Linked DNA regions of Homo sapiens. The protein of the gene in region 4 purifies or fractionates together with the protein of the main gene of each other region. This does not show direct contact. Each region holds a gene or a part of one and is shown on either strand. Other genes may lie near its edges.

Region 1 (3,500 bases), on a different chromosome or scaffold from region 4:
GCATGAGTCAGGTAGAATTTCATGATAAAAGAACAACCAGATGAAATAAGAAATAATGATTGGTTTCAAGCCAATGAATCTGCTAAGCTAACTACCAAGTTTTGATGTTGAATGGTCCAGGCAATTTATGTCTTTAGGAAAGCTGAGTGTGGCAAAGGTCACTTGTTAACATTTTTCTTAACAAGAATGTCATAACTACTCATTCATTTTTATTTTGTCCCCACGTTTGGTATTTGTTTTGTTTTGTGTTTTTCCTTCCTGATGTCCTTTGCTTTTGTGGAAGATTGTCCTGTTGATAGGCAGAAACATGGTGGTGATCCTCTATGTAAAATATAGTTGCTTCTTACACATCAGAAGTATTTCACTCATTTTGGAATCACAGGATTTTCATGTTTTCATAAATACACACATTGTTTTGATAATTATTAGCAATTAGCTTATTTTGTAGCATTAGATGGAAAAATGTTTAAGCTAAAGAGTTTAATTTTCTTGATTTTGGTTCCACTTTAATAATTCAAGAGGCCTCCAAGTTCAAGGACCAAGTCCTTCTATTTTAGAATTGTGAAAAACATGGAAATACTCTTGTTAGTGTGTGTTTTGGTCTAAGGTAGATTATTAACACAGAAGGATCCTAGGAGGATTTAAGAAAATATGTCCTTATCGTGAAGTGGCAGTTAAAGTTATGGGACAGGTGAATTACCTATTCATCTTGACTAGCTCAAACAATGATAGCCATCAGCTAATGACTTATCAGACACATGTTGAGTTTGGGTCAAACTCCCATTCAGCTGGAGTGGATTGGCAATTTTAAATGCAGGTAGTTGGTGGTGGTACTTGACCTACCTCCTTACCATGTACATCTGGCATCTTCTCTCTCCTATCCTTTTTCTTTGTTTCTCTCTCCACTTTTACTCTTGCTGTAGGCCTACCAGTGGCACTCAAGCTTACTTCTTCAGAGAGAAGTAAAGAAATTTCTGACTCCTGCCTTAGAACATAGCTAACTGATGATCCAGAACAATTTCAGTATTATGAGGTAACTGGGCAGTTTTTTTCTGATTGCTATTTTCCCCATAGTCTTAAGCTGGCAGTTTGAAGGTATCTAAATTAATGTTAAGAAACTTGTGAACTGAAGAGAGTAAGAAGTATGTGTATTTTAGGTAAGTTACTGGGAACTGAGACTTACTGGTTTGGAAATTGGAGAGTAGGACGAGGAGAGCTGTTTAATGTGTTTGTGGATGGGGGTTTGAGAGGTATATAGAGAATGGTTTGGAAATAAAGTGAGAGGAATTTTTACTAGAGGTAGGAAAAGGTACTATGATGGAGTCCGAATGAGAGTTATTTGCTAAGGAAATGAAGTTGATCTTCACTAAGGAAGTTTCAATAAAGCCAGAGAAAATGGGTCCCTCATTGATTATGAGAAAGCTGTTAGTTACTATAGCTAGAGTTATGATAATGATCATGCATTATACAAGTCTGTTTTCATGTATAGGATGTCTGCTTTTCTGGGACAAATTAGCACAATTGTGGAATGACAGCTTTTCTGGTCAAGGCAAGTGGATGCTGGGGAGTTATTATTTTGAGGAAAAGAAAATTTCAAGCTTTTCACCATTATTCTTTTTAAACTATCAGAAATATTTATCACACATACTATCTATTTTCTTGGGCTCTTGTTACAATGTAGTTTACCTTTACTTTTCAAATGGTCCTTAGATCAAATTATTTGATTTTGTACTCCACAAAGACACATATTATTCCTTGCTTTTATAGAATTTTGAGACTTTGGCCCACACAAATTTCTTAGAAGACAATAAACCAGGTAAAAACACTAACTTGCAATTTTAGGTGTCTTTTTTATTTCTTTTACATTTGCATCCGTAGCAACCATTTAACCTTGTAGACCTTATGAGGCCCTCAATAATACTGTATTTCTAAAATTAGACAACATACCCCCCAAACTCATGTTTCTGTTTCCCTACTTTCTCTCTTACTTTAAAATTGTAGTATTCCCAAGAGTTCAGTGGTGGCAAATGTTAATAAAATAAGTTAGTACATTTTGGAGGTTCTTATATCCTTTGTAGGGTAAGCTGATAGTGTTTAGATTTCTGTTCCCATTATTCCAGTAGTGTTTTAAATTATTTAAGATAAATAATTACTGTAATGTTTGTTTTTAAGTTACATAATTCAAGTATGTTTGGATTAACTCTTTGTTGTCAAATTTAGTATGGATTTATTCCTGGTGATTTGGACAGATTACTTTGAAGTTTCATTTTACTCACATCTCTATATATTAGTGATAAAAATCTCTTTTAAAAATAGCAAAAAAGTGGTTCTGATTTTGTACTTTGAAGGTAATTTTTCTTTTTTACGAATGTCAGGTTCATTAACAATAGCAGGATTATTTTTACTATAGCTTATTTTGTAGAGTTGGCACTTTAGTATAATTTTCACATTTTATTGTGTCAGATTTTAAATTATAATAGTTATATACTATAACTCATTTAAGTCAATGCAAAGCCTTCTTAAATAGCCCCTCCCTTAGAAATTTGTTTAAAAAGAAGTGAATTCCCAAACCTGTGTCAAGAACTTGTGATTTAAATGACTGTGAGACAAGTCCTTGAAAGGCTTAAGTCTAGTCAGTGGAGATAAATGATAGCCCATTTCCATGCTGCATATAGTTGTTAGGGTTTATAAAGTTGTCAATGTGTAAAAGTGCAAAAGCAGGAAAGACTAAAGTTGCCTGTAAAATTTCTAGTTTTCATTATTTGCACTATTTATCTTTGCACTTGATTTTTTGAAAGTTAAGGCTAGTCACTTTCACTTTTGTTTCTAGTCTTTTCTAATTTCTTGCAGAATTGTGTTTTCAATATTCCACCCAAAGCAAAAATTATATGCAATTAAAAATATTTTATAAGGCCAAGAAAATATTTCTTAATGTTAGCTGTATAAAACAAAAATTTGTTCTGATAAAATTTTTAATATGGGCCTTTATTTGCCAATAAAATCCTTTGTAAATGTGAGCTTTATTAAACTGTTTAAATAGACAAAGTTAAAGCTTAGGATAGGGAATATATATGTATGTGTATATGAAATGATGTCTTCGAGTTTTAACTTCCAGCCTGAGATGGCCTAGATTTGGTGTGTTAGTTTGTTTCACTGAAGTCAGTGAGATAGGAGTCTAGCTGGGTACATGCTTAAAAAGCTGGAAGTGAAGTGGGTGGCAAGTGGCAGCTCCCTCTTTCATGTAGTTTTCCATAATGTTCATATAGTTTCCTTATGGTCTAAGTGTTACAACTGGTTTTCAAGTTGTTATATTGAATATTCCTTTTTGGAATTCAGGGTTGAATCACTTTGAGGGGGAAGGGAAGCAAGGGCAAGAGACTTTATTTTAACCAGATGCGGTCTTATGACCTCAAAGATGTGCTCTAGAAAGAAAATAACAAAAAGTGTACCTGTGAACATATTTTTTGTCTTGGTGATATTATGCAACACAGTGTTCAGAA
Region 2 (3,500 bases), on a different chromosome or scaffold from region 4:
CTCACAATGGGAAAGAATATCTGAAATGGGGGCCATGTTCAAGAAAATTCCTATGATTTATGTTTTGCCCATGAGCATCTAGACAGCCCCTCCATAAAACAAAAATGTGGACCTCAGAGTCCTGTGAAAGCTATGTTTATTTCTTAAATCATAGTTGAAATATTCCTATTGTCAATAAATGTGGCAGTTTATTCCCTGTGGTTCTACTGGTTGGCCCTTCCCTGTCTTCACTAGTCAATCTCCTCACCAGACCACCCCATAACCAAAACCCTCTAACTCTCTACCCTTTAAGAACTGGGGAACATCCAAGGAAAAACCACCAGCCATAGCCACTCTGCTGCAGACTCAAGACACAGAGGCCCCTTTGTCCTTCAGTGACTTACACTGAGCAGAGCCTGTTGTCTTCCTTGTGAGCTCGCTGGCAGAGGAAACAGGAACCTGGGTGCAGTTCTGCCCTTGGGCCCCCCAGACTGCAGCTCTGTTGCTTGAGGAAAGGGCAGCAGGTGACTGAGGCAGAGTGCTGACTTGTGCAGGGGCAGTGGATTCCCCAGGTGTGGTGGGGACCAGGTTCCTCAGACTCTGACTTCCAGTACGTAACATATCTTTTTCTGCCTTGACTGCCATTGTTAAGCCAAAACCAGTGGCACCAGTTTTTTCTACATCAGTAGTTTTATCCACTACTTGACTAGAGCCATTTGGTATATCATGAACAAATGTACTAGCCCAAAGTGTCTTCCCTTTGTATTTACCGTTAACAAGTGCTACTCTTGGGTCAGCATCATCTGCGATTCTGCCAGTGGCCTGGACATCTCGGGAAGCAGGTCCAGCATCCTGAATCCTAGGTGATGATATTTCTCTGTGACCGCTGCTAGTGCTTTTGTAATTTAAGGATCTGGTAGAAGTTATATCTGTGGCCACTCCATCAGCATTATTATTAAAAAGAGGGCCAGGCTGGATGTCCTGAGTTCCACTTTTGCCATTGATGATCCTGTAGTCTGAGGAAAGCAAGCCTGTGCCCTTTCTGGTGGTCACAGCTTCAGGTGTTTGCAGAGAGCCAAGAGAAGAGCGGGCGGCAGGTAGCGTGGGAGAAAACACAGTCTTTCTCCTGGCGCCTTGGTCATTCGTCCAGGATGTGAGGCTCTTCCAGTTGGGGGCTGATGTTGAATTGGAAGCAAGGTAAGTGCTGCCTGGATTTCCATGCAAGAGGTCCTCTTGACTGCCGTTCTCTAAAAACCTCTGGCTTGTCCCGGCCTGACTTGTTCCTCCAAGATCAGTAGCCTTGGACGAGCCTGAGGGAGGCCGAGCGCGATCCTGACTCCCCAGATACGTGAACTTGCGGGTGAGATCGTCCACAGGCGCGTCCTCCAGGGAAGCCCTGTGGCTGATCTGATCTGGACTAGGTGTGCAGGACCTCTCAGCAGACGCTGAAGCAGACGCAAGAAATTCTTGGCTGCCCTGAAAGAACCGATCTCTACTCTTGCTTCTAGCCCTATATGCCATGTTTCTACGATGTGAAGAAGGAGCTAAGGGGAAAAAAAGCCAAAATGAAACAAAATAATGAACATTGGAGTTAATGTGACTGAGTTCCTACCACCCTTCCTCCTCTTCACTTTTGTAGCTTTGCTATCCAAGTGCTATCAAATTACTTGGCGTAATCTGATGTGTAAAAATCTTGAAGATGGGTGGTTTGACACTGACGGTTTTTTTTGTTTTTGTTTTTGTTTTAAGAGATGGAGTGTTGCTCTGTTGCCCAGGCTGGAATGCAGTGGCCCGACCACAGCTCACTGCAAGCTCGAACTCCTGGGCTCCAGCGATCCTCCCACCTGAGCCTCCTGAGTAGCTGAGACTACAGGTGCTCACCAACTGTGTCAGCTGATGAAAGAATCTTGACATTCTGCCTGCACGGCAGAGCACGTCATTCCATGGCCTAGGATGACAGTGAGGATCAGCTCTAGGATGACAGTCCCCGGCTCTCTTCTGGGACTCAAAGTAGCCCCCAAACCCCAAAACTTTTAGGTGGGGCTGTCCACTATCTCCTGGTCCTGAGTCAACGTTCATCACTGGGGTCAATGGAGAGATAGATTAGGGCAAATCAGAGAAGATTTTCCAGAAAGCATTCGATTTTGCCCATATCGTGATACGGGTGTACCTGGCTATTGACAGATTCACAATGCTCAAAGAAACCAACAGAAAATGAAACCACAGTCTAAAGGCCTGACTTTGTTTAAGCTGGAAATTTTTCCAGTTTTCTTCATCTCACTCCATAAGGCCAAAGTATATCAGAAGTCAACATCGACAAAGCAGTGTGGCCTGCAGGGAATTGGCCTTCCTCTAGAAACTTGATAGGTCACACCCTTCTGGAAGCAGGGAGGAAGGAAGGAGTTAGGGTGTGTTTGTGAGCGCGTGTGGAGTGTGTGTGGCGTGCATGCACGTGATGTTTATGTGGGGTGTGTTTGTGTGCCGGGGGTACATGTGGAAGATGTGCATGTCTGTGTTTGAGGCACATGTGCACGTGTGGTGTGTGAATGTGAGGTGTGCATGTGTGCTCGTGTGTGTGTGTGAATTGTGCTTTTTTGTGTGGGGAAGGGGTAGAAGAGACATTTTTTTTCTCTTCCAAACCCAGGGGGCAGTAGTTATGTAGTAAAAGCAAACACCCTCCTCCTGTCAAGAAAAGGCTTAACTCAGGAGATTAACTGGAAGTGAAAATATATACAGATCTTTCTCATTCACAATAAGTTTACATTGAGAAGCTACCACCAAAACCCATCCCTCCAGACATTCCTCTGTTCAGAGGGAACTGTAGTGAGAGAGAAAAAGCATTAGATATGGGATCAGAACATGCACTCTGCTACTTTCTAGTGATGTGAGGCCTTGAAAATGTTACCTTTTATTTCTTCATTACATTATCCTTCATTCTTCTAAAAATGAGCTGAGGCTGCTTGCAATAAACATTGCTTACTATTTCTGAGCCTCAGTTTCTTTACCCTCTTAAGTAAGGCTAAAAAATGACATATCTACCTTTCTTTGTGGTTTCACTGTGAGGAACAATGATGAAATATTTATTTGGGATGAAAGTCCCTTGTAAATGATAAACCATTTCCCAAATATAAGGAGGTTTAATTGTTCATTAATTTGCACAGAATCCTAGAATCATGTATTCTATCTGCTTCATAAAATTCATCTTTCCTACATCCACTTCATAAAGACATTAAAAATGAATGCCATTATATAATATGAAAATGCTTCAGAAATAGCAGCACTTGGCTGGGCATGGTGGCTTACGCCTGTAATCCCAGCACTTTGGGAGGCTAAGGTGGGTGGATCACTTGAGGTCAGGAGTTCAAGACCAGCCTGGCCAACATGATGAAAACCCGTCTCTACTAAAAATACAAAAATTAGCTGGGAGTGGTGGCAGGCACCTGTAATCCCAGCTACTTGGGAGACTGAAGCAGAAGAATCACTTGAACCCAGGAGGCGGCCGGCCATTGCAGTGAGCCGAG
Region 3 (3,500 bases), about 87 Mb from region 4:
TGTATCCCCATCTCAGCACTTATACTCTGTGTTATTAACATTTCATTTTACACCCTCCCCTAGACTGTCAGCAATCTAAGTTCAGTGATGTATACCTTACCTTTCTCTCCTGAGCACTTAACACATGTACATTCTGATCCCATTTTTATATAAACATTAATTCATCCAAACATTTAAGTACCTACTAAGTGCTAGGACCATAATGCTGACTAGGACATACACAATCCCCAATCTCTTGGATCTTTTTCTCCCCGCTTTTTGAGGAGTATGGAGTCTCCATATGTTGCCCAGGCAGGGCTCAAGCTATACTCCTGCCTCTACCTCCCTAAGTTCTGGGATTACAGGTGTGACCCATGGTGCCTGGCATCTCTTGGGTCTTATGATCTAATTGTACAAGAAAAAGAAAGTACCAGATAGTGATAAGTGGGATGCATTAAGTTTGGGGGAAGCTCTTTTGGGGAGGTAACATTAAGAGTGATTCCTAAAGAATAAGACAAGCCAGGCATGTAAAGGTCTAGGAGAAAATATTCCCAGAAAGAAGAAAAGGACCTAAAGAGATGAAGAAGTCTGTCTGATCTATAGATGCTTTACACACACACACACACACACACACACACACACACACACACACACACAGAAAAATATCTGGAGAAATATATACCAAGCTATTAATGGTAGTTATCTATTGGTGGTAGAATTCTAAATGTCTAGCTTTTCTGCTTATCTGTATTTTCTAATTTTCTAAAATAAACATATTACTTTTATAATTTAAAAACTTATTTTTAAGTTTTAAAGGATTATCATGGATTGACAAGCCCAAGATGGAATGGCATCTTTTGTTTACTAATTGGAAAATATACCTAGCAGGAAACTTTCAGGATTAAATACCAGGTAGAGTCCTGACGAACCTTCAAGTTTGGTCTAGTATTTACTGCATAGAATTTACCCACCAAACAATCGTTTTTTCTAACATAATTGAAGTAATTTGGAGTTAAGACAAATATTCCAATTAATCCTATTTTTACATCTAGAAAAACAAGTTCAACAAATTTTAGAGTTAAGAATTTACTTGGTACAATATGTAAATATATGACAGTTCCAATACTCCATATAAAATCACTTCAAGTCAATTAGCTACTACAAGGGTTACGAAACCTTCTAAAGAAAATACTTAAAAAAGCAAGTCAAAGACTTTACTAATGCCAAATAATATTTCCTTCTAAGAACAATAAAATGAAAACCGTTTATTTGCAAATATCACTTGTAATTAAACTGTAATAAGATAGCAAAATTTACATTTAATCAGAATACTGTTAACCTGGCAAGAGAAAAAGTCATCTTTTATTCTATATACAACTAAATATTTGAGATATTTGAGAATTAAACACTTAGTAATAGTCATTTATTTGGTAAGAAGTATACTTCTTACCAAATAAAATTCATCTAAATACTTTCCCCAATATCAAATCAGTAATTTAGGCAATTCTCCCAAGCAACTAAATGTTAATGCCATTCAATATAAAGGTTAGACCAATTTAAAAATAGTCATCTAATTACTCTCTTCTATTAATGTTTTAGCAATTTCACAGGAAAACAAGAAAAGAAAATATCTCCAAATAGATCTTGTTATTTTAAGCTTCGGAAGAGGTATTTGGTATGCAGAAAATGAATTGTGACCTAGATCTGCCACTGAAATTAGCACCAAGAAAGAACTGCGTTGATTGTAACACATTTTCTGTATTACTATCAACTTTCCAGTGGTATTTCTAACTTGGTCAAGTCTCTGTGGGTTTCACTTATACGAGTTTCACAAAATTCACTTATATGAAAACCATTCAATTAGTCCAACATGGCCCATCTCAAAAAAAAACAACAAAAAAAACAAAAAAAGAGAAAACCACTGTATAAAGAAAAGAATCTTACATTGTAATCTCATAAATCAACATGATAAAAATTTTAAATATGAAGTAAATTTCAATCTATCTTCTCACTAATCCTGTTTTTCAATTTTTTTTTTTTTTGAGACAGAGTCTCTCTCTGTTGCCCAGGATGGAGTGCAGTGGCGTGATCTCTGCTCACTCCAGCCTCCACCTCCCAGGTTCCAGAGAGTCTCCTGCCTCTCGGCCTTCTGAGTAGCTGGGATCACAGGCATGTACCACCACACCCGGCTAATTTTTTGTATTTTTAGTAGAGACAGGGTTTCACCATGTTGGCCAGGCTGGTCTCAAACTCCTGACCTCAAGTGATCCACCCACCTCAGCCTCCCAAAGTGCTGGGATTACAAGCGTGAGCCACGACGCCCGGCCTCAGCTTTTGACTTTTATCTAACTTAGGGTAAGATACAGAAAGCTTGACTTTTTTTACAGAGAAATTTAAGACTACCCATTTCATACTGGCTAACAAATCTCCATGAGTAAACAAAATTTATTATTGAATTACCGTGGTGGCAACTAATTGAGAATGGCATATGTATAAACAAGTTATCAAAGGTTATTATCAAACACTGGCCACTGTTGCTTTATGAGAAAAATAACAATTGCCCTGCCTTGAATTTAAAACGTTATTTGAAAGTCAGTGTCCAAAGTCTTCTTCACAACTTTTCTATTTCTGGTTTTAGCTTTCCAACAGAGAATCTATTCAGCACATTTTTAGTATTTCCCCATAGTGCAAAAGCTAAAATTTATTGACTACAGTTCTTTACAGAAAAAGAGCCAACCTACACTATACCTGTGATTAAGAAAAACTTTCACCTATCCAACTGTGTGATTACATATAAAGAGAAATACATAATTCTACAGAGGAAGATACATTCACTTAAGAAACAAATTGCTGGCTGTCTTTAAAAAGGTAACTATTAATACATGACGTTATTAATAAGATCCTCATATGTGCTAATACTACCAATATTATCAATTAATGTCATCTGATTTCACACAATTGAAAGTTTTCATTAATGCAAAAAAACAGCTTTCTATATTATTAAGTTCTTTTTTTTTTTTTGATAGGGTTTTACTCTCATCCAGGCTGGAGGGCAGTGGCGCAATCTCGGCTCACTGCAACCTCTGCCTCCCAAGTTCAAGTGATTCTCCCACCTCAGCCTCCCAAGTAGCTGGGACTGCAGGTGCACATCACCATGCCCAGCTAATTCTTGTATTTTTTGGTAGAGACAGGGTTTCACTATGTTGGCCAGGCTGGTCTCAAACTCCTGACCTCAAGTGATCTATCCGCCTCGGCCTCCCAAAGTGCTGGGATTACAGGCATAAGCCACCATGCCCGGCCTACAAAACTTAAGGTCTTAACAGCAATTCTTATACTCTAATTATGGCTTAGAAGTCGGAAAAAAAAAAAAAAGGTAGTATCTTCAGTTCGTAAAAATCACAGTAGATGAACAAAAGCAAAACAAGTGTAATTGCTTACATCTTATTATTCATGATTTTTTAAAGGACTAAAGTTGTTTCCTGAAAATAAATTATTTTCAGTCTTCTTGAGAGTTCTTCCAG
Region 4 (3,500 bases):
TGAGCCATCATGCCACTGTACTCTAGCCTGGTTGACAGAGCAAGACTCCATCTCAAAGAAATAAATAAATAAAATAAAAATAAAATGTCACGCTATGAAGCACTGAAATATTCATTTTTCACATAATGCCTCACTTAGTATTTATACCATCATCAAAAGACCAAATAAGTAGAATACTGGAAAAAATACAAAATCAAGTGGTATTTTTATAATCAAAGCAATATGATATGCCTTATTTAAAAAAGAAAAAAAAAAAGGCCGGGTGCGCTGCCTCACGCCTGTAATCCCAGCACTTTGGGAGGCAAAGGCAGGGGATCACGAGGTCAGGAGATCGAGACCATCCTGGCTAACACGGTGAAACCCCGTCTCTACTAAAAATACAAAAAATTAGCCAGGCGTGGTGGCGGGTGCCTGTAGTCCCAGCTACTCCGGAGGCTGAGGCAGGAGAATGGCATGAACCTGGGAGGCAGAGCTTGCAGTGAGCTGAGATCGCGCCACTGTACTCCAGCCTGGGTGACAGAGCAAGACTCCGTCGCAAAACAAACAAACCAACAAACAAAAAAACAAACTCAAGATGCTCAATGATTTAAGAAATAATACTAATGGGCCGTGCGCAATGGCTCATGCCTGTAATCCCAGCACTTTGGGAAGCCGAGGCGGGCATATCACCTGAGGTCAGGAGTTTGAGACCAGCCTGACCAACATGGAGAAACCCTGTCTCTACTACTAAAAATACAAAATTAGCCAGGCGTGGTGGTGGGCATCTATAATCCCAGCTACTTGGGAGGCTGAGGTAGGAGAATCACTTGAACCCGGGAGGCGGAGGTTGCGGTGAGCCAAGATTGCGCCATTCTACTCTAGCCTGGGCAACAACAACAACAAAAAAAAAAAAAAAAAAAAAAAGAAAAAGAAAAAAAAGGAAATCATAATAATGGCTGCAAAACATGTTAAAAAACCAAACAAACAGAATAGGCCAGGCACAGTGGCTCATGCCTGTCTGTAATCCCAGCACTTTGGGGAGGCTGAGGTGGGCAGATCACATGAATCCAGGAGTTCAACACCAGCCTGGCCTACGTGACGAAATGCCATTTCTACAAAAAACACAAAAATTAGCTGGGTATGGTGCGCAGACCTGTAATCTCAGCTACTCGAGAGGCTGAGGCAATTGTTTGAACCCGGGAGGCAGAGGTTGCAGAGATGGCACCACTGTACTCCAGCCTGGGTGATGGAGCGAGACTCTGTCTGGCTCACCCCTGTAATCCCAGCAGAGGTGGGAGCATCACTTGAGCCCATGAGGCGGAGGTTGTAGTGAGCCAAGATTATGCCACTGCATTCCAGCCTGGGCGACAGAGTAAGACCCTCTCTCAGAAACAAACAAAAACACCAAAACCCTCAGAATACATTTAACAAGGTAAAAAGCCTATATGAAGAAAAAACTCAAATATATTAAAGGAAAAAATGCAAAAACATACCACGATCTTGGATTGGAAGATTGAGTGATTCTAAAGGCTATGGGAAAATATAAATTGCCAAGAATACCAGATATTACAATTTAAATTGGATATAATCAGCAGTGTAGCAACTACAAAGGGAAAAACAGCAAGTTTACAGTGGAGAAAACTGGCAGATAATACCCTAGTCAAGTTCTTTGAGTTTAGCTTTGCCTACAATGGGACACACATATCTTCTAATATGATGCACTAAGGACTTATGACTTTAAAAATGCACATCCTGAATCTAACCTTGAGGGAACATCAGACAAACCCAAACTGAGGGACATTCCTATAAAACAGGACTTCAAAAATGTCAAGGTCATAAAAAGACAAAGCCTGAAGAACTGAACAGTTCAATGAAATCCAAGATTCCAGATTGGATCTTGAAACAGGAAAAAAAAAAAAAAAATAGGACAATTGACAAAATTTGCATATGGTATATAGATAAATGTACCAGTGTTTAATTTCCTGATTATGATTAGTGTACTGAAACGATGTAAGATTGATATTCCCAGCCAGGCACAGTGGCTGATGCCTATAATCCCCAGCACTTTGGGAGGCCAAGATGGGCGGATTGCTTGAGCCCAGGAATTCGAGACCAGCTTGGGCAATATGGCAAAAACCCATCTCTACAAAATAATACAAAAATGAGCCAGGCACAGTGGTACACACCTGTAGTCCCAACTACTGGGGAGGCTGAGGTGGGAGGATCCCTTGAGCCCAGGAGGCAGAGGTTGCAGTGAGCAGAGATCACACAACTGTGCTCCAGGCTGGGTGACAGAGTGAGACCCTGTCTCAGAAAAAAAAAAAAAAGATAAATATTCCCATTCTTGGGAAATACGCACTGAAATATTTAGAGATAAAAGTGCTTACTGTCTCCAACTTATGGTTTCAAAAAAAAAACTATCTGTAGCAAGATAGAGAATGATAAAGCAAATGGGGCAAAATGTTAAGAGTCAATGAATCTGGGTAGAGGTTATGTGGGAGTGTTGGGTATTGTTCTTGCAGCCTTTTTAAAGTTTGAAATTATATCAAAATAATGTTACCGAAAGACAGTATAACCCAAGCAGATGGATCAGAGGATTAAAATGGAAAATCACAGAGATCTGAGAATATATGGAGAAATCAATAGGTAAGAAAAATAATTCAATAAATGCTGCTATAAAAATTAATAATCCATTGGGAAAGGAAGTCATATTCCTACAGACTTTGTATGATACATATGCAAAATACATTTCAGAGGATTTAAACACCTCATTGTTAAGAAAAATACTGAAAAGTTAAGACAGATAATCAGACTGGTAAAACTACAAAAATATACCATAAATCACTAAGAAAAAAGAATTACACAACATAATATAAGTAGATTATCAGTAGGAAGTCTTAGCACGACACATATACTCAGTATCTCATTGTTGCTTTAAAAAAATTGGAAATAACCTACTGGTGTATTTGAAGGGGAATGGTTGAATAAATATGGTACATCTATAATAATGAATACCACGCAGCCATTAAGAACAACGTAAAGTCTTTGGTTTGTTCACAGCCACATTTTGGTACCTGAAATAATGCCTAGCACATTTTTGAATGAATTAATGAAACAGGAGGCAGATTTTTAATCATTCAGCTGAGAAAGATCACCAAATAATATTGTTAAAAGAAAAAACAAAAAGCAAGATTTAGAACAATATGTATGGAATAATCCTATTAGAACACTGCACGTTTGTACCAAAATTTAAGGACACTGATATTTATAAAGCAGTTAGCAAACAGCCAGCAGCCATCAAGAAAAAAAAAAAAAGTAGTTGTTGATACAGCTAGTTCTGTAGCAAAGCCAGGGTCAGATGAACCCAGAGTTCCTGATTTAAAGCTCAGAGCTCATTCTATCATGCCACTTACTGCACCACCAACTTGACATTAGCGGAGGTGACAGCATCTCAGACCCTACCCAGAATAGACTTCATTACAGCTTCATCTATTATAGTAAAACAACAGTGTCAAATATGT

The links.
Region 1: the proteins of LIN28A (region 4) and PURA purify together in Homo sapiens (affinity purification with mass spectrometry; 3 studies listed by BioGRID and IntAct, with this or other methods). This does not show direct contact.
Region 2: the proteins of LIN28A (region 4) and ZC3HAV1 purify together in Homo sapiens (affinity purification with mass spectrometry; 3 studies listed by BioGRID and IntAct, with this or other methods). This does not show direct contact.
Region 3: the proteins of LIN28A (region 4) and RSBN1 purify together in Homo sapiens (co-immunoprecipitation; 3 studies listed by BioGRID and IntAct, with this or other methods). This does not show direct contact.

Annotation. Positions count from the first base shown.
Region 1 is NC_000005.10:140,120,651-140,124,150, forward strand, and holds part of PURA (transcriptional activator protein Pur-alpha), read left to right. Parts: 3' UTR 1-3,500. UniProt on the Homo sapiens protein: This is a probable transcription activator that specifically binds the purine-rich single strand of the PUR element located upstream of the MYC gene. May play a role in the initiation of DNA replication and in recombination.
Region 2 is NC_000007.14:139,078,721-139,082,220, forward strand, and holds part of ZC3HAV1 (zinc finger CCCH-type antiviral protein 1), read right to left. Parts: intron 1,524-3,500; coding exon 750-1,523; coding exon of another isoform or gene 384-749; intron 1-383.
Region 3 is NC_000001.11:113,798,977-113,802,476, forward strand, and holds part of RSBN1 (lysine-specific demethylase 9), read right to left. Parts: intron 1-3,500. UniProt on the Homo sapiens protein: Histone demethylase that specifically demethylates dimethylated 'Lys-20' of histone H4 (H4K20me2), thereby modulating chromosome architecture.
Region 4 is NC_000001.11:26,420,817-26,424,316, reverse strand, and holds part of LIN28A (protein lin-28 homolog A), read right to left. Parts: intron 1-3,500. UniProt on the Homo sapiens protein: RNA-binding protein that inhibits processing of pre-let-7 miRNAs and regulates translation of mRNAs that control developmental timing, pluripotency and metabolism.